Linked DNA regions of Homo sapiens. The protein of the gene in region 5 interacts with the protein of the main gene of each other region in a pairwise test. Each region holds a gene or a part of one and is shown on either strand. Other genes may lie near its edges.

Region 1 (3,500 bases), on a different chromosome or scaffold from region 5:
TAACATTGAAAAAAATTTTTTTTTTTGAGACGGAGTCTCGCTCTGTCGCCCAGGCTGGAGCGCAGTGGTGCGATCTTGGCTCACTGCAAGCTCCGCCTCCCGGGTTCACGCCATTCTCCTGCCTCAGCCTCCCGAGTAACTGGGACTACAGGCACCCACCACCACACCCGGCTAATTTTTTGTATTTTTAGTAGAGACGGGGTTTCACCATGTTAGCCAGGATGGTCTCGATCTCCTGACCGTGTGATCCACCCGCCTTGGCCTCCCGAAGTGCTGGGATTACAGGCGTGAGCCACCACACCTGGCCACTTTTAAATTTTTAAAAAGAATAGTTGGGCCGGGCACGGTGGCTCACGCCTGTAATCCCAGCACTTTGGGAGGATGAGGCAGGCGGATCATCTGAAGTCAAGAGTTTGAGGCCAACATGGTAAAACCCCGTCTTTACTAAAAATACAGAAATTAGCCAGGCGTGGTGGTGCACATCTGTAATCCCAGCTACTCAGGAGGCTGAGGCAGGAGAATTGCCTGAATCCTGGAGGCGGAGGTTGCAGTGAACCGAGATTGCACCACTGCATTCCAGTCTGGGCAACAGAGTGAGACTCCATCTCAAAAAAAAAAGAATAGTGATTGCAAAGAGCCATGTCACAACACGGGCAGATTATTTTTCCCATACTGAATGAAAAAGAATCAAGGTGAGAGTGTATTTAGTGTTTTGTTGTTGTTGTTGTTTTTGAGATGGAGTCTTGCTCTGTCACCCAGGCTGGAGTGCAGTGGCGCAATCTCAGCTCACTGCAACCTCCCCGTCCCGAGTTCACCTGATTCTCATACCTCAGTCTCCTGAGTAGCTGGGATTACAGATGTGCACCGCCACGCCCGGGTAACTTTTGTATTTTTAGTAGAGATGGAGTTTCACCATGTTGGCCAGGCTGGTCTCGAACTCCTGGCCTCATGTGATCCGCCCACCTCGGCCTCCCAAAGTTCTGGAATTATAGTCATGAGCCACCGCGCCCGGCCTAAAGAAGAATAGTGATTGCAAAGAATGTGTCACAACACAGGCAGATTATTTTTCCTACGTTGAATGAAAAAGAATCAGAAGGTGAGGGTGTATACTTAGTTTTTGCACAGCTATATTAGACTAAAACTGTGAAACGAGCCAGGCAGACGAACAAGTGAGACAACAAAACCCACCCCGATTCTTGGGAAAAAAGCCTGGAAAGACAGATCCCAAAATAGTAACCATGGTTATCTTTGAATGGGAGGAGTGACGTTCCCCTTCTTTCTACTTTTCTGTATTTCCCAAATTTTCCATAATGGGTATGTATGCATTTGTTCACTTTATATTAAGCAAATAATGCATGCCTATTGTGAGAAAATCAGAAGAAAGGAAGAAGCAGCTGGTGATCCCATCACTTGGGGAATCGCCTGCAGCAGTTGCTTTGGGCTGGACTCTGCAGGGCTCCTCTACATCCCTGTGCTTTTGTGTTTAGGAATGCGCGGTGCTAGGCCGGGCGCGGTGGCTCATGCCTGTAATCCCAGCACTTTGGGAGGCCGAGGCGGGCGGATCACGAGGTCAGGAGATTGAGACCATTCTGGCTAACATGGAGAAACCCCGTCTCTACTAAAAATACAAAAAAATTAGCCGGGCATGGTGGCGGGCGCCTGTAGTCCCAGCTACTCGGGAGGCTGAGGCAGGAGAATGGCGTGAATCTGGGAGGCGGCGCTTGCAGTGAGGGGAGATCGCACCACTGCACTCCAGCCTGGGTGACAGAGCGAGACTCCATCTCAAAAACAAAAAACAAAACAAAACAAAAAAACAAAAAATTAGCTGGGCGTGGTGGCTGTAGTCCCAGCTACTCGGAAGGCCCGCTGTAGTCCCAGCGGGCGCCTGTAGTCCTAGCTACTCGGGAGGCTGAGGCAGGAGAATGTCGTGAACCCGGGAGGCTGAGCTTGCAGTGAGCTGAGATCTTGCCACTGCACTCCAGCCTGGGTGACAGAGCGAGACTCCATCTCAAAAAAAAAAAAAAAAAACCGCGGTGCCAATAAATGGTGATACATTGGTTGCTTTCACAGTGGGGAATGAAAGCAAAGGCAAAGACCGTTTCCAGGGGGCATGTCCTGGGTGGGGCTCTCGGGGCTGGGCTGGCTGACCTGGGCTGACAACTGCCTCTGTCTCCACAGGAGCGCTGTGTGGCCGCCCTGGCTCGTGTCGAGCGCACCGACTTCCTGTCTCCCATGTGCATCGGTGAGGTGGCGCATGTCAGCGCGGAGATCACCTACACCTCCAAGCACTCTGTGGAGGTGCAGGTCAACGTGATGTCCGAAAACATCCTCACAGGTACTTCTGGGAGCGACAGTGTTGACTGGAGCAGTAAGGGCCGTGGCTACACAGCTGCTTCCCTCCTGAGGGCAGAGGACGCTCCAGGGCCTGGCCCCTTTTCCACCAATGAGACCTCTCTCACCTCCCACCATGGCCCTGGGAGCAGCTATGTCCATTGCCCTGATTTTGCAGACAGGAAAGGGGCACAGAGGGGTTAGGAAACGAGTTCAGTTACCCAGAGCAGGACTCAACCCTGCTGTCTGGGTCCGGCCTGAGCACATCATGCTGCCTGTCCTGCTGCCCGTGGCCAGCTCATCCATGGCAGGGGCTGGGCGCGGGCTGTGAGGCCGGTACGCACCATCCACCCCTCTGCAGGTCTCCCTGCCCTGCTTGCCCTCCTCAAGCGTAGGGAGGTGTTGGCTCCAGAGAGGACAGTGCTTGCTCCTGGGAGCCCCAGAAACCAGGCTCAGATGGAAGCTCACTGGGTGAACCTTTGCCTCTGCTTTCATCTGAATATTCTCCTCCTTGGCCATGGTAACCATGGAAACCCCCTTCCCCTTCCCACTGGGCGCTGCAGGAGGGGGCGGCTCCAGTGTTCACCAGCTCACGCTTCTTTTTATACCCAGGCTGGGGACGGGAGGTGAGGGGGAAGGCGGGCCTCTTCCCCTGCCCCTGGTCCTCTCCCTGCCACCTCCCAGGTCACCAGTCCTCCCATGCAGAGAGGCTGGGCCGGTTTCCTCCTCTTCCCCATGCCTGTTCCTCAGCAGTGGCTGCCCCGTGGAGTGCCAGCTCACAGCCATTTGAGGGGCTTGAGTCCTCTTCCTCATGACGGGCCGGTAGCAAGCACGATTATGCATCTAGAACATTCTGAGGACCTCAGCAGGGTTGATTAGAATGGCTGTGTCAGCCCAGCTCCGGCAGGTGGGCAGATGGAGCTGAGCAAGGGCCTGGGGTGGAAGGTGGTCTGCGTTCCCATTGCCTGCTGCTCCCTCAGCAGGCACCTCTGACATCAGAGGGACCCTGGATGCTGGTCTCAGGATGTGGCCCAGGAAGGGGTGTATGGGCACCTCCCACAACAGGAGCAGCGCCCACGACTCGGGAGAGGCTCAGGGCTGGGTGGGTTCCCCACTTTAGGGGCCTTGGGGGTTCCCTGCCATCTCCTGTGAGATCGCAGCTCTTCTCC
Region 2 (3,500 bases), on a different chromosome or scaffold from region 5:
TTCTGGGCTATGGAGGGCAGGTAAAGAAACCACTAGAATGACCAAAGATAAAGAGAAAGGACAAGAGGACGGACACAGACACTAGCACAAACACAGACACACACAGGCAGAGGAGCAACCCTGGAACTTGCTTCTTGAAGAGACGTAGATTTGTGCCAGAAACAGAGTGTGGGAGACAGAGCCCACACAGGAGATGTGTGGTCCAGAGAGGAGTTCAGGAGTTTGGTGAGGATGTGCAGCAGCGCCCAAGCAGTCTGGCATTATCACCCGGTGCAGCAGACTCGGGGCTTACACAGGACGATGGGATACCTGCAGAAGTGGGGAATGGAAGCATGAGAGCCTGTTCAGATTGGTGTAGCCCTAATGACTCCAAAGGTCAGGGCCTAAGAAAGGGTCAACAAATTGTGCCTTCAAAAACTGTTAAATGCGGCCGGGCGCAGTGGTTCACGCCTGTCATCCCAGCACTTTGGGAGGCCGAGCCAGGTGGATTACCTGAGGTCAGGCGTTCGAGACCAGCCTGACCAACATAGTGAAACCCCCGTCTCTACTAAAAATACAAAAATTAGCTGGGCGTGGTGGCAGGCGCCTGCAGTCCCAGCTACTCAGGAGGCTGAGGCAGGAGAATCGCTTGAACCCGGGAGGCAGAGGTTGCAGTGAGCCGAGATCATGTTACCGCACACCAGCCTGGGCGACAGAGGGAGACTCCATCTCAAAAAAAAAAAAAAAGAACTGTTAAATCCATTAAAAATGTACTCCCAACCAACAATGGCAGTCATGGGTCTGAGCCAAGTTTACTGAACTTACAATCCTGCCAGCCATAGAGTTTGTGTCATATACTTCCCTCACACTGAAAGTTACACAAATCTTAGTACCTGGGAAGACAGAGAAAGCCAAAGAGCTGGTCTTCTCCCATATATGTTCACAGCTGCGAATGTGTTAGGCAGAATTACCCTTTATAAAGTAGAGTGCAGCACCCCAGAAGCATAGGACAATGGACAGGTAAGTTTTGATGTGCAGAGAAGGAGGAAGATGTCCATATCCTAGAGATATCGTGAAAAGTGGTACTCTTGACTGTGGATCGAGTGCTAAGGTGAAGAGGAAAGGGGGCCTCAATACATACAGTCCAGGATTTCGGCCAGATGCATGCTTCCATCACGCCTTCCCAGGCCTGACTCATTACCCAGCCAGGGGACCCAGAACCTGGATAAGAGGAATCTATACACAGAAGAGCACAAGTCTACCTGGATTTCATCCGGTGCGTTCAGGAAATGGCTTGGGAGAAGGTTTGGAAGCATTCCGACATTGTTGACTGGCAGAAAGAAGCAAAACAAAAATGTGTCAGAAGATCAGGTGGGAGATTTTCCCAAAGAACCATGTACAAAAAGATTGACATGTAAGGTTGTTCATCGCAGCATGATTTGGTAACGGTGAGGAAACTGGGGGGAAGTTTTTGTCCAGTAATAGGAGACACCTTCAATGAATCATGGGGTTGTCATATGTTGGAATGCAGTGTAGTCATTAAAAACTATGGCTGGGCTGCTTACATGGGAGAACATGCATGATGTAAGTTTTTTAAAAATATATGACAAAACAGCACATACGTATAATTCCAGTTTTGAAAATATGTGTGTTTAGGATTAGAAAAATGTGCACCAAAATGCTACCTCAGAATATTGGGATTTTAAGAGATTCATATTTATTTTATTAGCCTGTCTATTCTTTCCAATTTTTCTGCAATGATATGCTGTACACTTTCATATGTAAAAATGTAATTATTTTTAAAATTCAGCAGAAGGTTTAGAAATCCAATTTGACTTTCTTCTATATATACCATAAACACTGCACTGTGCACGCGGCCGTAAAGTATCTTGTCTATAAATCATTACAGAAATAAATATTATCTTGTTTTCTGAATAAGAAAGAGAGTCAATTCTCAACTATACTATTTCATGGATCAATCACAGCAATGTTTGTTTGCTAAACTAATTCCTTTAGGCCAATGTTTCTGGGATTCTTTTTCTGCCAAATGTCAACGTCAGTTCCATAAAAGAAAATTCATTTTAATATTAGAAAATATAGTTGGTCCGGCCGGGTGCAGTGGCTCACACCTGTAATCCCAACACTTTGGGAGGCCGAGGCAGGTGGATCACGAGGTCAGGAGTTTGAGACCAGCCTGGCCAATATGGTGAAACCCCATCTCTACTAAAAATACAAAAATTAGCTGGGCATGGTAGCAGGCGCCTGTAGTCCCAGCTGCTTGGGAGACTGAGGCAGGAGAATCACTTGAACCTGGCAGAAAGAGGTTGCAGTGAGCCGGGATCACACCACTGCACTCCAGCCTGGGTGACAGAGCGAGACTGCATCTCAAAAAAAAAAAAAAAAGAAAAGAAAATATAGTTGGGGGTTGAAATATGTATGTTTGATACATTCCAAACCAATATATAAATTTTTTTATTCAGTAATGCCTCTAGAAGAAGTGTGCTTTGATATTCAACTTAATGGGACAGCTTAAAATACAGTCATGGTTTGAGTATAAATCACCATGAAATAATCAAATGTCACTCATCAGTGTCAGGTTATTTCACTGATGTATGACAACAAGCTTTGCATCTTGCAATTTACTCACCTAAAATTCCAATTTCTAAGCCTGCAAGTTTTTCTTTAATATGCTCGTAGATGTCATCTTTTGTAAAATCTGCTTGTATAATCTTCACACTCCTCCCTGTAGTCCGCTCTACACGAGAGACAACAGTTTTTTTAATGAACAGGGATCCAAATGCCCCCTCGCCCATGAAGTTTCCCCCAGTGCTCCTGTATTACCTGAGCAGACATTGAAGAGGACAGCCCATTGCCCCAAATAAAAATGGGACATGGTTCTGGGTAAATGTTGGGAGGTGCTAAGATTGGTGAATGGTGGTTCCTACGTGTCTCTAAGAGTTACTGCAGGGACACGTATATGCATTAAGATAGATTTACTGCAGCGGTTCTCAAAGTGGAGTCCACAAACCACAGCATCAGGGTTACAGGGAAACTTGCCAGAAATGCAAATTCTCGGGCTCTACCCCAGACCTATTGCATCAGAAACTCTGTGGGTGGAGCCCAGCCAGCCACCTGCTTAACACACCTCCGAGGGACTCTGCTGCTTGCTCAAGTTCGAGACCCCAGACTGACAGCTGTAAAAGCAAGGTCTGACACTGCCTCTGCTCACAAGTGTCAAGTCTCCTCCACACAGACCCAACAACTCTTTGTATTTGTCCAATGCTTTAGCATTCACAGAGCATTTACATACACAATGTCTTATGGTCATTGTCCCTACAACCTTCTAAAGTAGGCATTATGACTTTCATTTTCCAGAGGAGAAAATGAAGGCTCAGAGAAGCTAACTGACGTAGCCAAGACCATCCACTCTCTGGTCACTCCACGTTCAATGCGCTCCCCACTACTCTGTGTTAACTTGCCTTCTGCGGGAGTTTTCCGTCAGATGTGAAAGCTACAGAGTT
Region 3 (3,500 bases), on a different chromosome or scaffold from region 5:
TTACAGAGCCAGTAACTAGTAGACCTTGGATTTGAATCCAGCAAGGTGGTCTCCAGAGTCTGTGTGTGTGTGTGTGTGTGTGTGTGTGTGTGTGTGTGTGTGTGTGTGAATCAGGAAGATAGATTGTGTTTCATTATGTGTCAATTGCTATTTAAGGCCCCCCAAAGGACTAATGAAGGATTTGAGTCTGCCCTTCATTGCTCCTAGGTTCCCTGGCCTTGTGCAGACTGATCCGGAGTCCGCCTTAACTACTATGCCCTCTGTCTAGTGGCCTGTCTTGACAATATACTGAGGATTGGGGTTAAGAAAATAGTTCCCTCTCCTGAAAGACTGATTGATGTTCTTCCTTCTACTATCAGACACCAAGAGTCCTCCCATTCATCTTGTCCCCCCCTTTCCCCTTGGCTGCCATGAGTCATCTCAGAGCCAATTTGAGTGTCCAAATACAGTTGTCATCTTCAGCCAGGGCACTGGCATAATTTTCTCTCTTTATTCTCTGTATCGGGTGCTCTTAACCCGGACTTTTGAATAGGCTTCAGGGGAATCACACACCCACTGAAATGATATGCAAATTGTTGTGTATATGAATATATTCATTTTTGTGGAGCAAGAATTCATAAGCTCTAATCAGATTCTCCAGGAGTTTCGTGATCTTAATCTTCAGGGTTTCTGCCTGTCTTTCTAGAATTTCTGTTCTTACTAGTTGCATTGGTCATGTAGTTTATTTTTTAAGCCATCTCAAGCCTTTTTAATGCTGTAAGTGGAATACAATGTAAAACCATAATAAGCAAATGCGTGCAATGTTGCTATCCATTCTGAATTTTTAAATCTCTCTTGGTTTGCATGGAGGAAGTCTGTCCTCACGTCTCCCTCTCTCTTACCTTCACTTTGCACACTTCTGAGTGGTTTTGATGTCTCAGGGTCTCAGGTGTCTCAGGTTCCCATCCCAGCACTGCCCAGGCACCCATCTTGTGCTCATAGATCCAAACTTGCAAGAAGTTTGCTGACCAGAAAGAGCCCTTGATTTTGATCCAAGGCACAAATGAATTCATTTGTAGATTTAAAAATCCACTATCTTAATGCAATGGCCAGGAGGAAGCTTTGTGGTAACTAGCACTCACCTTGGTGTTCAAAATGTGGTGGTTTGTAGATACTAGTCAACACCACCTGACTAGATGTTTATTAGAGCTTATTAGGAATTATTAAGTTTATTTTCTAATCAACTTATTAGAGCTTATTAGAAGCAAGGAGCTTTTTAGAAACTCAGACTCTCAAGCCCCATCTCATACCTACTGAACCAGAATCTGCATTTCTGAAAAGATCCCAAGTAATTTCAATGCACATTAAAGTTAGAGAAGCACGGATATAAAACAAGAAGACTCATTTCTCAAGTTTGTCAAACCCTGGAGAGCACTTCAGTTTTCTGGAATTGGATGACCTGGGACAATTCCTACTAGGGTTCACTGTCCCATTACAAAAGGTAGGTAACAATACTTGCTGTTCCTCCCTCATGGGGTTACTGTGAATTTCAAATGAGCTCTTGGATTCACACTAGCTACGTATCATGATGGGGCTGATAGGAGCTGGAGAGCTGGCAGTGGGGAGCAGAATAGGTGTGGTCTCTGCCCTCATAGAGCTGATGATTTGGTCGGGTAGGAGAACATGCTGTAAATGCTGGTTGGTGTTGTGTGACTGTCCTGGTTATCACAGAGCCTTCATTCATTTATTTCATGCATTCATTCATTCATTCGGTGGTCAGCCATTTATTAAAACCTGAAGTGCCTGTACTATGTCACACATTAAGCTCTGAGCTGCACATGGGGAAGCAGAAATAAATGAGTCAGAAACCTCGTCCTCAGGGAGCTTTTAGTCTAGCCAGAGACAGAGATACATCATTGGGTGGTTCCATTTAGAACACACTCTGGCTGGTGCTCTGAGTTGGCACAGGGGGCTGTGGGGGTACAGGTAAATCAATGAAGAACTTTGCTTTTAAGGGTGATTACAAGTTCACAGACTGAGAAGAGGGAGAACAGCACTGAAGGCCGAAAGAACAGCAGGGGAAAGGCAGGGAGGCATGAAGGCACAGCATGCTTTTGCCATGGCCAGAAGGTAAAGAGAATTTGGAGGAGTGCCTAGAGATGATTTTGGAGAAGTAGCTTGAGGCCCGGTCTTAGAGGCTAATGAATCTGGTCTTTATCCCTTAGGAAATGGGGAGTCCCTGAAGGGAGACAATTGACGCAGGTGAAGATCTTTTAAGAGCAGCATGGAAGAAGGAATGACTTGAGGCAGAAATACCTTTAAGAGGCTCTGAGAGCAGCTTAGGGGAGAGAGGAAGTCCTTACTGGGGTACTGGATGTGGCGATAGAAATGGATGTAAGAGAAATTAAGGAAGGTAGCATTGACAGGACTTGGTGGGCAAATGAATGGGGTGGTGAAGAGAAAGGAATCAGGAGGCAGAGATGTCTATAGATGAGGAGCACAGTCCAGCTTGATGCAAGAATTAGGGAGTTGGGAGGTGACTGGAGTCGTGGGAGTGAATGAGACTGTGAGAGTGTGCGGTGGAAAGAGAATAGGGGTAGGAGTGGCACCAAGGCACCAACAGCAAAGCGATGGGCAGCAGCGATGAGTCTATGAAGGAGGCTGAAGGATGCCCAGAGGCAGTTCTGCTTTCCTTCATTCCTTTGGGCATGGAGAGCAACAACGCAGTGGTCACAACTCATCACCCTCCAGAATCATCGCTAGAAACGGCCCTGGGGTCACCACCCTTGAAGCCCCAGAGTGAGTGGGGCCTGAGGCTGGGGCCCCTGAGAACATGAACTGAGACAGGGATGGACATGCGTGGACGGACGCAAGCCCTTGTCTCCCTCTCCCTCCCTCTTTCCTCCTCACAGATGGTAATGTCCAACCCTTTCACAAATCATTTTTTTCTCTGAAAGAAAACCAAAAGGACATAAGAGAAGGAGAAACAAAAGGCATGCTTGAGTTTGTTTAGTTTTTCAGATCAGACAAAAACCCAGCAACACCTAACACGAAAGAAAACCTCCCAGACCGTGTCCTAAGTTGACTCCAATGAGCTCATTCTCTCATTAAGAGCAAAGAGAATTAGGTTCTATCATGATTAGCCAAAGGAAGATTTTACAAAACAAAACAAAAGAGAGGAAATGGCCCGGAATTGTGCTATCTGGTTCATGCTTTTCCATAGAAACAGGCCTGTGGTTTTAAACTGATAATGGCTCCTAGCAGCCCAATAATTGATTTATCTGGTGTTCTGGCTTTAAGGGAAAAGTAAACTGGCCTCTTTAGAAATGTTGGCAGCCTGGCTGGTCCATTAGTAAGACTGAAAAGTCAAAACATTGACTGGAAAAGGCCATTACGACCGGGCTCAGCAGGAGTCATCGATAGATGATGTCATTTCAGAAATAAATAAGCCAAGGTTATGAGGCCCCAGAGCAGGGTCAAAACACTCTTCACAGCCCATCACCATCCTCCATCGCAGATAC
Region 4 (3,500 bases), on a different chromosome or scaffold from region 5:
CATGGCTCACTGCAGCCTCCAACTCCTGGGCTTAAGTCATCCTCCCATCTCAACTTCTTGAGTAGCTGGGACTACGGGTATGCACTACCACCCCCCTCTCCAGCTAATGTCTTTTTTGAGATGGGGGTCTTGCTATGTTGCCCAGGCTGGTCTCAAACTCCTGGCCTCAAGCAATCCTCCTACCTCAGCAAGTTTCTTTTTTAAATAATGAATGAGTGTTGAATTTGTTCAAATGTTTTTTCTCCATCAATAGATACGATTATGTGATTTTTCTTCTTTAGCCTGTTGATATGGTGGATTACACTGACTGATTATGAATACTGGATCAGTCTTCCATCACCAGAATAAACCCCACTCAGCCATGGTGTATAATTTATTTTATGTATTGTTGAATTCTATTTGCCAATATTTTGTTAAGAGTTTTTGCATTTATTGATAAGGAATATTGGTCTGTGGTATTTTTTTGAACAATCTTTGTCTGGTTTTTGTATCAGGATAACACTGGTTTCATAAAATGAATTGGGAAGTGTTCCTTCCTATTATCTTTTCTGGAAGAGACTGAATAATCTGTGAATATTTGTTATGTTTTTCCAGTAAACCATCTGAGCCTGGAGATTTCTTTTCTTGGGCATGAGTTTCTTAATAGTATTGAGCCCTGTAGATAGCCATTCAAAGTATCTATTTTATATTGGGTGAGTTAGAGTATTGTAGTTTTTGAGACATTGGTTCGTTTCATCTAAGTTGTCAAATGTATGCATGTGGAGTTGTTTCTAATATTCTCTTTTTATCCTTTTGAAAAACAAGGCAACCTGAGATTAACAATCTACTGCATAAATACACAATTCTCTGATCATTTTCCCAAGATAAATTCCCAATAATTAAATAATTGGGTAAAAATCTTTTGATACATATTGAAAAATTGTCCTCCAGAAAGAGTGCATCAATTTATACTTTTACCACTAATAATAAGAGAGTTCATTTTAATTCAGCCTGGTAAACACAAGATAGCATTGTCTTTTCAACTTTGTCAATTTGACAGGTGGACAAAATGACATCTCTTTTGTTTTAACTTCTATTTTTTATGAGTCAGGTAAAACCTTTTATATGTTTATTTTGACCATTTTTATTTTGTAAGTTGTCTCTTTCATGTCTTGCTTATTTTTCTATCAGGATATTCAACTTCTTGTTTATTTTAATAGCTCTTTATATATAAAGGATATTAATGTCTTGTATATGTCACAAATATTTTCCTCGATTGTCATTGCCTTCTTATTTATGGTGCCTGTTTTTGCAGTGCAGTTTTAAAATTAAAATTATTCATGACATTCCATATGTTTTCTTCTCTTGTCTTTATGTTTAGACTGAATTTCTCCTACATCAAGACAGGGTGACACAAATATTCTTGTCTTTTCTTTCTGGTTTTATTCCCCACCTCTCTACCAAACTCATCAACTCATCTGTAATTTATTTCTATGCATGGAAAAAAAAGAATGGTTCAGTTTTTGTATTTGTCTAACACGGTCCTGAGATTTCAAAAACCCAGTTTATATCAGCAATCTTCATTGCCATGACACCTTTCTCAGTAAATTTTATAGTAGTTTGCAAATGATTTAGTGCGTCTTTTTATTTTTTTCTACACCAATAAATATCTGAGCCCATCAGATAAGTGGTGCTTCCTACCACTACTTTTTGGTAAAATTAATGAAAATTGCAAGAGCTCCATGTATTTGGTGGTAGAAATTATGAAATGTGGACTTTTTTCCTTTTTGTTGAGGTATAAAGCATATAGCAGAGCATACAAATCTTAATGGTACATCTTGATAAATTTTTACAAATATATAATATACACTTATGTGTATTTATAGAATATTTTACATAACATCCAGATCCATTTATATAACATTTCCAGCAACCTAGTGGACTTTAAGCCTAGTGAAGCCAGGCCTAGTAGTCTCTTCCAGTCACTATCACCTCCTGCCAAAGGTAACCTCTATTCTCACCTTTATCACCAAATCTAACTTTATCTGGTTTGGAACATCATCTAAATGAAATGACACTGCATATGTTCTTTTGTATGGCTTATGATTTTCAAGTTTATTTCTTTGCAATTTTACCTATGTTGTTATACATAGCAGTTTGTTCTTTTTCATTGCTATGTAGTTTTCTGTTGTATGACTATATCACAATTTATTTCTCCATTCTCATGTTGATATGCATTTGGATTTTTCTGGTTTGGGGCTACTATGACTAATTTCTCCATCTTTGGGCAGACACAGAATTCCTTTCTTCTGTGTGGGTCCCAGGAGTGAAATTGCTTGGCCATAGTGTGTAAATATCTGTTTAGCATTAGTAGGTCCTATCAAATGTTTTCCAAAGTAGTTATACTATTTGATAGTCCCACCAATGAGGTATAAGAATTCCAGTTTCTTTGCCAACACTTGGTATGCTTAGTCTTTTTAGATTTAGCCACTCTGGAAGAGGAGAATGGTGTCTCACTGTGGTTTTAATTTCCATCTTCCTAACGTAACTGGGCAGCTTAACTTCATAATATATTTTAAAACATTTTTCCCTTCTCTTGGGTTTCAAGATATAACCTTGAAGCAAACTGCAGAAGTCTTTTCTCTTAGCTATAAAATAGCTCCCTTTCTCACCATATATACTCCCTGCACATTTAGCTAACTGCATGCTAGTATCTATTATGTGCCTTCTTAGAAGTTCCAGGAGGTAATCTTGAGACGGACAGACCAAGCATGGAGACCTAGCTGCAAAATTCCAGAGATTACTTCCATGCAGCTAATTAACAACTCGGCCACTGTTGAGATGATGTCAGCCTGAGGTCCAGGTGGACTGGCACCAAAGATAATCATAAAAACAAGACCCAGAGATACTGTACTCAGCACAATTCTCTTGCATGCCCTCCTTAATCAAGTTTTCCTCTTTTAAACCCCTCCCTTCCCCCGAAATAGTCAAAGTGGTTGCTTTGATGGGAATCTGGCCACTTCCCCTTTACTAGTTGTGGTTAATAAAGTCACTTTCTATCTACCAGGCCTCACTCTTGTTAACTGGACTCTGCAGGCAGTGAGCATGTGGACCTGCATTCAGTTACAATTTTAGTGGCCCATACAGTGTGCTCTGGGGGCCCAAGCCCATGGTCTGGTTTCTATTGGACAGGGCCTGTGGGGCTGCCTGTAGGCTCCAGTTGCTTGTGGCTACCTGACCCCTTGGCTGGAATGCTAGGGAGTCTCCTGCAGCTGCCTAGATGCTTTTGTCTTGGGGATCCTCTCTTTCTCTTCCTGCTGCAGTGCCTGCTACCTCCAATATTTCACTGGTGCACTGAAAGTGACTTTTAGAGAAGTGACAAACTTTGGAATTTTGGAACTTTGAAACTTCGGAACTTGGTGAGTTAGTCGGAGTGCATTTGACCACCATCTGCCTCTTTTGGGATGTCACTGGGACTCTGCTCTATTTAGACTTGGCCACTAGTGACACCATTTGAGCAT
Region 5 (3,500 bases):
AAAATGCTCTGTTAGCATATAGCTTGTGGACACTGATTTTTGCTGTAAAGTCTTTGACTTCATTTAAACTAACTCACGACACATTACTGATCTAGTTTGTAAGCAAAACCACAGTCTATGAAAACCAGATTTCTTCACTACAAAGAAAGTAGTAGATTTTTTTTTCTCTCTCATGGTAGATAGCCCCAGTTGAACAGAACAAAGAACATTACTTTTGTGTTTAGGAGAATTGCAGTTATGGATGAATGTATCAAGAGAGGGGCAAGGATATATGTTTTAATCAGTGCATACCAGTGTCAAAAATGCAGGGTTTCTTCCATGCCATTGGCCATGTGGGGTTTATAGAAGAAGAAACTGTGCTTGGACTTATATCAGGACTATAACTCACTACAGTTTTTGGAAAAATGTGGGGAAATTCTATAGAAAAGACAGGTTTTGGTCAAGGGTTCACTTGCTAAACCATAATTCAGGTAGCACCATCTTAGCCCTTGCTTCTCTCACTTGAAAGCTTCGCAGGGGAGGATGGCATCTTTAGAATTAGTCAAAGGGGCTGTAGCATAAAACATAATTGTGGTTATTAGCCTTTTCTGGTTGACAGTTAAGTAACAGTTGTGGCAAGAAACAGAGACTATGATATATATATTGATGGTGAGTGTGCCAGGGTATCACTTAAAATGGCACCAGCACATTTTGGGGGTGGGAGTAGTTTAGCCTTTGTATATGTGAGGGGATTATTTTAAATATGTGATTTATACCACCTTTTTTTCTTATGAAAACATAGTCTTTTTGAAGAGAAAAAGAAATATGCCCAAATAAATGCTATAACAGTACCATGACTTTCTTTATAAGAATTAGAAATCACTCTACAGAATGCCTTGAATTGCATGTCTATGAGCTATCTAGTGGCTATTTAATTCCAACTAAAGAAAGGGATACCAATCCTGTTTTCAACACAATTCTGAAATAGAATATTCATAAACCATTATACACATTATTAGTGAAACGGATAGATTATTATTCTTTAATTTTTACATATTTTGATGGTTTGACCAAGTGGGTAGTCGTTGAATTACACATCTGCATAACAGGGCAAAAGAACCATCTTCATATCTTTTTAATCCAAGCAAAATGATAACTGATAAATCCAAGGATATTTACAAAATTTCAAAAGCCAGAGAATCTGTGCATATGTCTTACCTTTCTCTTACGAAGTCTGACTTGGTTATCTGTGGGTTCCTGGGTGGCCAGGGTCTCCTTTAATTGTAAACACTGCATGCCATCTTCTGCCTTGACCTTTGGTGGACTTTTGTTTTGATGTTGTGAAAAACCACTCTTCTCCAGGCCATTTTCAGCTGACATTCCATTGGGGCAGGAAGGAGGCTGCAGAAGGCAGCTTCCAAAATCTGTTTTTAATAATGGCAGTCCTCTGTTTGTGCAAGGAGTATCCAAGAACTCATTTTGTACTACATTGCAGGTGCTTCTTTCATTTTCATCTTTAGGGGGGTCAGGTTTCCTTCGTTGCTGAGCAATTACAGCAGAGTTAAGCAATTGTTTCTCAGGTGCAATATCTTTCACGTTCAAAGTATCCACTGCATTTACTTTGGGTGCATCTTTTATTTCACTTAAGCTTATTTCATTGCAAAGCTCCAGGCTTTTACTTATAGAGTCAGTAACTTTTCTCTCCCCACTTTCTTTTACCAGTGCTAATTCAGTTTCACCAGCTATTCCCCAGGAGTTAGAAGAAACTTGGTTACTTTGTATGATGGGCAGTGCCTTTTCTAAGGAGCCTGCTCCTTGGATCATATGTTGGCCTGATGTTTTCTGCCCTTGGGTATTTAAAACCTGTTTATCATCTGTAAGGCATAAATCAGCATTGTTATCCTCATCAGAAACATGCACTAGTGTTTCTGTGCTGGCTTCCAGAGAAAGAAACTGATCTTCACCTTCATGGCTGTCATTTTCGTCCACATCCTTTGAAAGATGACCCATTGGCCTCCCAGGAAAATCTCTCAGCTCTGATCCATGACAGCAGTCAGGTAGTGAAACACACTTCTCTTTGCGGTCCACATTTAGAGTTGCATCTTTTTCCATACTTGCCTGCAAGCTGTCAGCTACTAGTCCATGATGACATGCTGTGTTACGATCATCAGAATTAAAAGGCTGTCCCATCCAGTGGGTCACATGTTCTTCCCAGCTTCTCTTTCTGATAGCTACAGACATGTCATCGTAGTTTAACAACAGACAGAGAGATATATTCCATATGAGGGTAAAGGAGATGGAACTTGATGAAAGATTATTTCAAAATCACCAATCAAAGAAGCGAATGAGTTCTGTCATTTCACCACCTATTAAAAAATTCAAAAAAATATGTAGTCGCAGATACGTTTCTAAAGTCAAAATATATCTTAGAAAAGAGAAAACTTAATCTATGCTATCAAAGTTAAGAGATTTTATAAAGCTTCTGTTTAGTAGCTTTAATAATGTCATTTCTTTAAGAAGCCTAATACTAGAAGGAAATTTAACATTGAATATTTCTGATAAAAATCATCAGCAATACTTTTAAAGGCATTTAAAGGCAGTTGGATTGGTCCATTAATGAATAAAGATACAAATACTGAACATTTAAAACTCCATTAAGAAAATATGTGAAATGCAATACTTAATAAAAATCACTGGAAGAAACATTGTTCTGGCTTGCATGTTTTCCTGATTTACTTTTGTGAACACAAGTTGTTAAATAAATCTATTCACTGTTTGGTTTGAATCACAGCGAAAGCCACCAGGGAACTGTTCATGCAAAACTTGAGCTATAGAGACAGCATGTGTAATGTATTAGTGTGTGAAGGAGCTAACACCGAACCCAAACGACCAGTATGTAGTTACTCCAGGGAATGACTAAGAAACATGGAATAATCCAGTTTAGCACATATTAACACAGAATGCATGGATTAGAAAGCATAACACATACCATTTACAATTAGGACAGATACATCTGTACATGCATCCTACTACTGCTACTACTAGCTTGCAAGCTGGTATTTTTGAAGCTTAAGGGAAATTAAATAATTTACTAAAGTTATACATGTAGCAAGTGAGCCGAGATTCAAACTTGGTCCTGCTTCTAAGGCCCAGACTGAGATAGTCAACAAACTTCATTGTCTCCATGGAATTATGAGATTCTACCTTCATCCCTTCTTCCCACATAACTTTAGTATGTGTAAACTCTAAATATTTTATGCAAGAATTCAAGTGAACATAAAGGAAGATATGACTATAAGACAATTGGGACTATTCTTCAGAAACTTCAGTCTCATTCTGTTTGGCTTATAAGAAGTTTAGTTTGCATATTTCTGTTAGAATATGGCCATAAAATTTAAGTAAACAAGAAAATCATGCATAAGACAAGCTTAGAATACAAACACATACCAGGTACCCAAATTTTTGCCTTGAATTCTTCAAACCCTTAGTTAAAGGAAAGAAATAATACCAGTGTCAACTCA
Region 6 (3,500 bases), on a different chromosome or scaffold from region 5:
CAGCTCCTCGTCTGTGCAGCCTGCAGGTGGATGCTGTATATGGCTTGATTATCAAATACATTATTTTGTGTAAAGAATTCTAAGTTGCTACAGTATATATCAAATGAGGTATACTGTAAGGGGTCAAAAGCTGCAAAAGCACTTCTTGAAGTTAAGAAGTCAGGTAGATAGGCATGAGTGGCCATATTATACCTATTCCTAATTAATAAATTAAAGATCTAGAAGATGAAAGGATATGCATGGTAATTGCAGCCAGTGACAAATTGTTAGGCACTGCAAATACAACCAAATACAGATGGCTAATACAGATGGGCTGGGGGCTGGGGGCTGGGGGAAGTACTATAAATAAGCATTTCATCATTTTTCTAAATCTACTGAAATTCTGTTTCATGCTACCCGCTCCATGGAGCCTTCTCTAAGAGACTACAGGACTAAAATGCTCTCCCAGCTTAGCACTCCTATAGGACTTATTGGGTGTACCATGCTAAAGGCAAGGAATGTAGGCTGCCTCATACTGTAGTTATTTCTGAAGAAACTGTATTTCTTTTAGTAAACATTTTAGACAGTCTTTGGAGATAAAAACCAGTGTTTTTTACATCTTTATAGTGCCCATCGTTCCTTGCATATTTAAAAAAAGTATACCCTGTTCCATTTTTTGTGTATGTTTGAAATTTCCGTTGTAAAAAAGTGTTTTTAAAAGATTACCTCACCAAACACAGTTTGAAGTCAATACCAAAAAAGTATATATGTTCACTTCTAATATGAGGCTATAGAAAAAAAGAAAAAAAGGTATAGATGTAACAGAGCAGTCTAAAATAATATTGAAAATTATATTTAAAAAAGGAAATCTAGGCCGGGTGCGTTGGCTCACGCCTGTAATCCCAGCACTCTGGGAGGCCGAGGCTGGTGGATCACGAGATCAGGAGTTCAAGACCAGCCTGGCCAACATAGTGAAACCCCGTCTCTACTAAAAATACAAAAATTAGCCAGGCATGGTGGTGCGCGTCTGTAATCCCAGCTACTTGGGAGGCTGAGGCAAGAGAATCGCTTGAACCCAGGAGATGGAGGTTGCAGTGAGCTGAGATTGTGCCACTGCACTCCAGCCTGGGTGACAGAATGAGACTCTGTCTCAAAAAAAAAAAAAAAAAGGAAATCTAAAGATGATGGTTATGGCACCTCAGCATTTTGAACTATTACTACAAGTAACCAAGGTGACAAGATAAATCATAAAATTCTGATAAATTTTTTGAAAAAGATATTAATAGTAATCCAAGTTCCTTAGGAAACACATATTTTTTCCTAGATATTAAATCCTAAAGAAGTTGTTATTTAAATCTCTGTATGAGGAGATCTGAGTAATGTAATAGTCCATGTCTTCCCAGGTAGTTTTTCAAAAAATGCAAAAAATACCTATGTGGCCTAAACTTTAGTCTGTACTCTCTCATGGTTGTGGGCAAGTCACTTAACCTCTACATGCCTTGGTTTCCTTGTAAGTGAAATGAGGTAAATAATATCGGCCCAATTTCATGTGGTGGTTATAAGAATTATATATAATAACTTACATGAATGAATTATTCAAATATAAATTAGGACTCATATGAATACAGGAAACACTTATAGTGCTTGTATATGTCAGGCACCGTTTAAATAATTTAGTTATTTTGTTATCTCATATAATCTTCACATCAGTCTATGAAGTAGGTAGTTATTATTTTCATTTTGCAAATGACAAAACTGAAACACAGAGATGTTGAGTAACTTGCCCAACACTTGTATTTGATAATCAAGCCATATACATTATCCACCTGCAGGCTGCACAGATAAGGAGCCGTGCCTGGATTGCAGGTCTAGAAACCCTGAGTATGAGTTTACTCAGGGGTAGTGAAGTAATACACACAGACTAAATGCAAAGAGACTAGTATATAAACCAGAGTGCCAATCTATTCGTTTATAATGAGAATTATTTATTTTCCATAATATTTCCAAGGGCTCTGGCTACCAAGTAGGGGAGCCAGGCTACGAATCTAGTCATTCTGGCTTTAACAGCCAGGCTCATAACCATGCACTCTGCTGCCTCTCTCTGAAACTAATAAAGTTTCACTGTATGGTGTGTTGTAGTGAGAAAAGAGGGCACAGGCCTTAGCATTATAGAGATGTATCACCAGAGCAAGTCCAGCCAGCTGCCAAGAGGCTCACTAAGGTGTTATCCATTTGAGTGAATACCCTCAGCCCAGCAAGCCCAGAAACCTGATTCTGTTAGCACACTGAGACTACCTCCATTTATCAGGGGCAGAGCTCATCAAGCAGATTTAAGGAGACTGACATATAAACCTAAAGACCAATTTTTAAATGAACAGACATACAAAGTCACATAGTAGAAAATACCTGGACTGGCTGGGCACAGTGGCTCACGCCTGTAATCCCAGCACTTTGGGAGGCCAAGGTGGGCGAATCACTTGAAGCCAGGAGTTCCAGACCAGCCTGGCCATCATGGCGAAACCCCGTCTCTACTAAAAAATACAAAAACTAGCTGGGCGTGGTGGCCAGTGCCTGTATTCCCAGCTACTTGGGAGCTGAGGCAGGAGAGTCACTTGAACCTGGGAGGCAGAGGTTGCAGTGAGCCGAGATTGTGCCACTGCACTCCAGCCTGGGCAGCAGAGTGAGACTCTGTCTCAAAACGAGTGAATGAATGAATGAATGAGAGAAAGAGAAAAAAGAAAAGGAGAGGAGAGGGGAGGAGAGAGGAGGGGATGGGGGAGAGGAGGGGGAGGGGAGGGGAGGGGGGAGGGGAGGGGAGGAGAATACCTGGGTTCTGGGCTCCCAAACAAATGCACCGTCTCTGTAGATAAGTACTTGGGAAGCCAAGTAATGATTGGAAGATTGCTTAGTGGTATGGAATTTGGGAGCTAATTGGATAATCTTCAATAGACCTGCCACAGGACCCTAATACAAATATTTCTACTGTAAAATGATACACGTGTTCCTAAAAAAACCTCACTTTCTGCAAAATCATCCTCTATAAAGTTACAGTGGTTATGGAGGTGGGGCAAATAGGCTTGGGACAAATGATTCAAAACCCTTGCAACATTTTAACACTAACTAAAACAATAATTGGTACCAGGAGAGAGAACTTGGATGGTCTAGACAAGCAGTTTACTGTGGCTGGAGGCTGCCTCAGGGGATAGTAAATGCAAATATAGTGTAATTGCAGGCTTGAAGCTGCTGAGACCTGAGCTCTGAGCCAGCGGGGTTGCCGTTAAGTTGGGCACAGGAGGGAAGTGCAAGCTGCCACTTGATGGAGAGCTGCGCAAGGCTGGTGTTGTGCCTCTCTGAGGAGGGAACCCTGGATGCTGGCTGAAAAGAATCCTGCTTATACAACAGCCAAGCTGAAGGCTTTTTCTTTCCAGCTGAAAGCTTTAATTCTCTTCCCACTATTCTGCTTTCTTCTGACTAGGAAAAAATCATGAACCAACACAACCCCCACATTATACTGACATCAT

Evidence for each region.
Region 1: the proteins of DLC1 (region 5) and ACOT7 interact in a two-hybrid assay, tested with the Homo sapiens proteins (one large-scale study listed by BioGRID and IntAct).
Region 2: the proteins of DLC1 (region 5) and HSD17B3 interact in a two-hybrid assay, tested with the Homo sapiens proteins (one large-scale study listed by BioGRID and IntAct).
Region 3: the proteins of DLC1 (region 5) and TMOD1 interact in a two-hybrid assay, tested with the Homo sapiens proteins (one large-scale study listed by BioGRID and IntAct).
Region 4: the proteins of DLC1 (region 5) and FBP2 interact in a two-hybrid assay, tested with the Homo sapiens proteins (one large-scale study listed by BioGRID and IntAct).
Region 6: the proteins of DLC1 (region 5) and HEMGN interact in a two-hybrid assay, tested with the Homo sapiens proteins (one large-scale study listed by BioGRID and IntAct).

The regions. Positions count from the first base shown.
Region 1 is NC_000001.11:6,338,268-6,341,767, reverse strand, and holds part of ACOT7 (cytosolic acyl coenzyme A thioester hydrolase), read left to right. Parts: intron 1-2,178; coding exon 2,179-2,335; intron 2,336-3,500. UniProt on the Homo sapiens protein: Catalyzes the hydrolysis of acyl-CoAs into free fatty acids and coenzyme A (CoASH), regulating their respective intracellular levels.
Region 2 is NC_000009.12:96,250,177-96,253,676, forward strand, and holds part of HSD17B3 (17-beta-hydroxysteroid dehydrogenase type 3), read right to left. Parts: intron 2,735-3,500; coding exon 2,627-2,734; intron 1,310-2,626; coding exon 1,242-1,309; intron 86-1,241; exon of another isoform or gene 1-85. UniProt on the Homo sapiens protein: Catalyzes the conversion of 17-oxosteroids to 17beta-hydroxysteroids. Favors the reduction of androstenedione to testosterone. Testosterone is the key androgen driving male development and function. Uses NADPH while the two other EDH17B enzymes use NADH.
Region 3 is NC_000009.12:97,504,666-97,508,165, reverse strand, and holds part of TMOD1 (tropomodulin-1), read right to left. Parts: intron 1-3,500. UniProt on the Homo sapiens protein: Blocks the elongation and depolymerization of the actin filaments at the pointed end. The Tmod/TM complex contributes to the formation of the short actin protofilament, which in turn defines the geometry of the membrane skeleton.
Region 4 is NC_000009.12:94,573,325-94,576,824, forward strand, and holds part of FBP2 (fructose-1,6-bisphosphatase isozyme 2), read right to left. Parts: intron 1,331-3,500; exon of another isoform or gene 1-1,330.
Region 5 is NC_000008.11:13,497,852-13,501,351, forward strand, and holds part of DLC1 (rho GTPase-activating protein 7), read right to left. Parts: intron 2,346-3,500; 5' UTR 2,221-2,345; coding exon 1,198-2,220; intron 1-1,197. UniProt on the Homo sapiens protein: Functions as a GTPase-activating protein for the small GTPases RHOA, RHOB, RHOC and CDC42, terminating their downstream signaling.
Region 6 is NC_000009.12:97,931,673-97,935,172, forward strand, and holds part of HEMGN (hemogen), read right to left. Parts: intron 1-3,500. UniProt on the Homo sapiens protein: Regulates the proliferation and differentiation of hematopoietic cells. Overexpression block the TPA-induced megakaryocytic differentiation in the K562 cell model. May also prevent cell apoptosis through the activation of the nuclear factor-kappa B (NF-kB).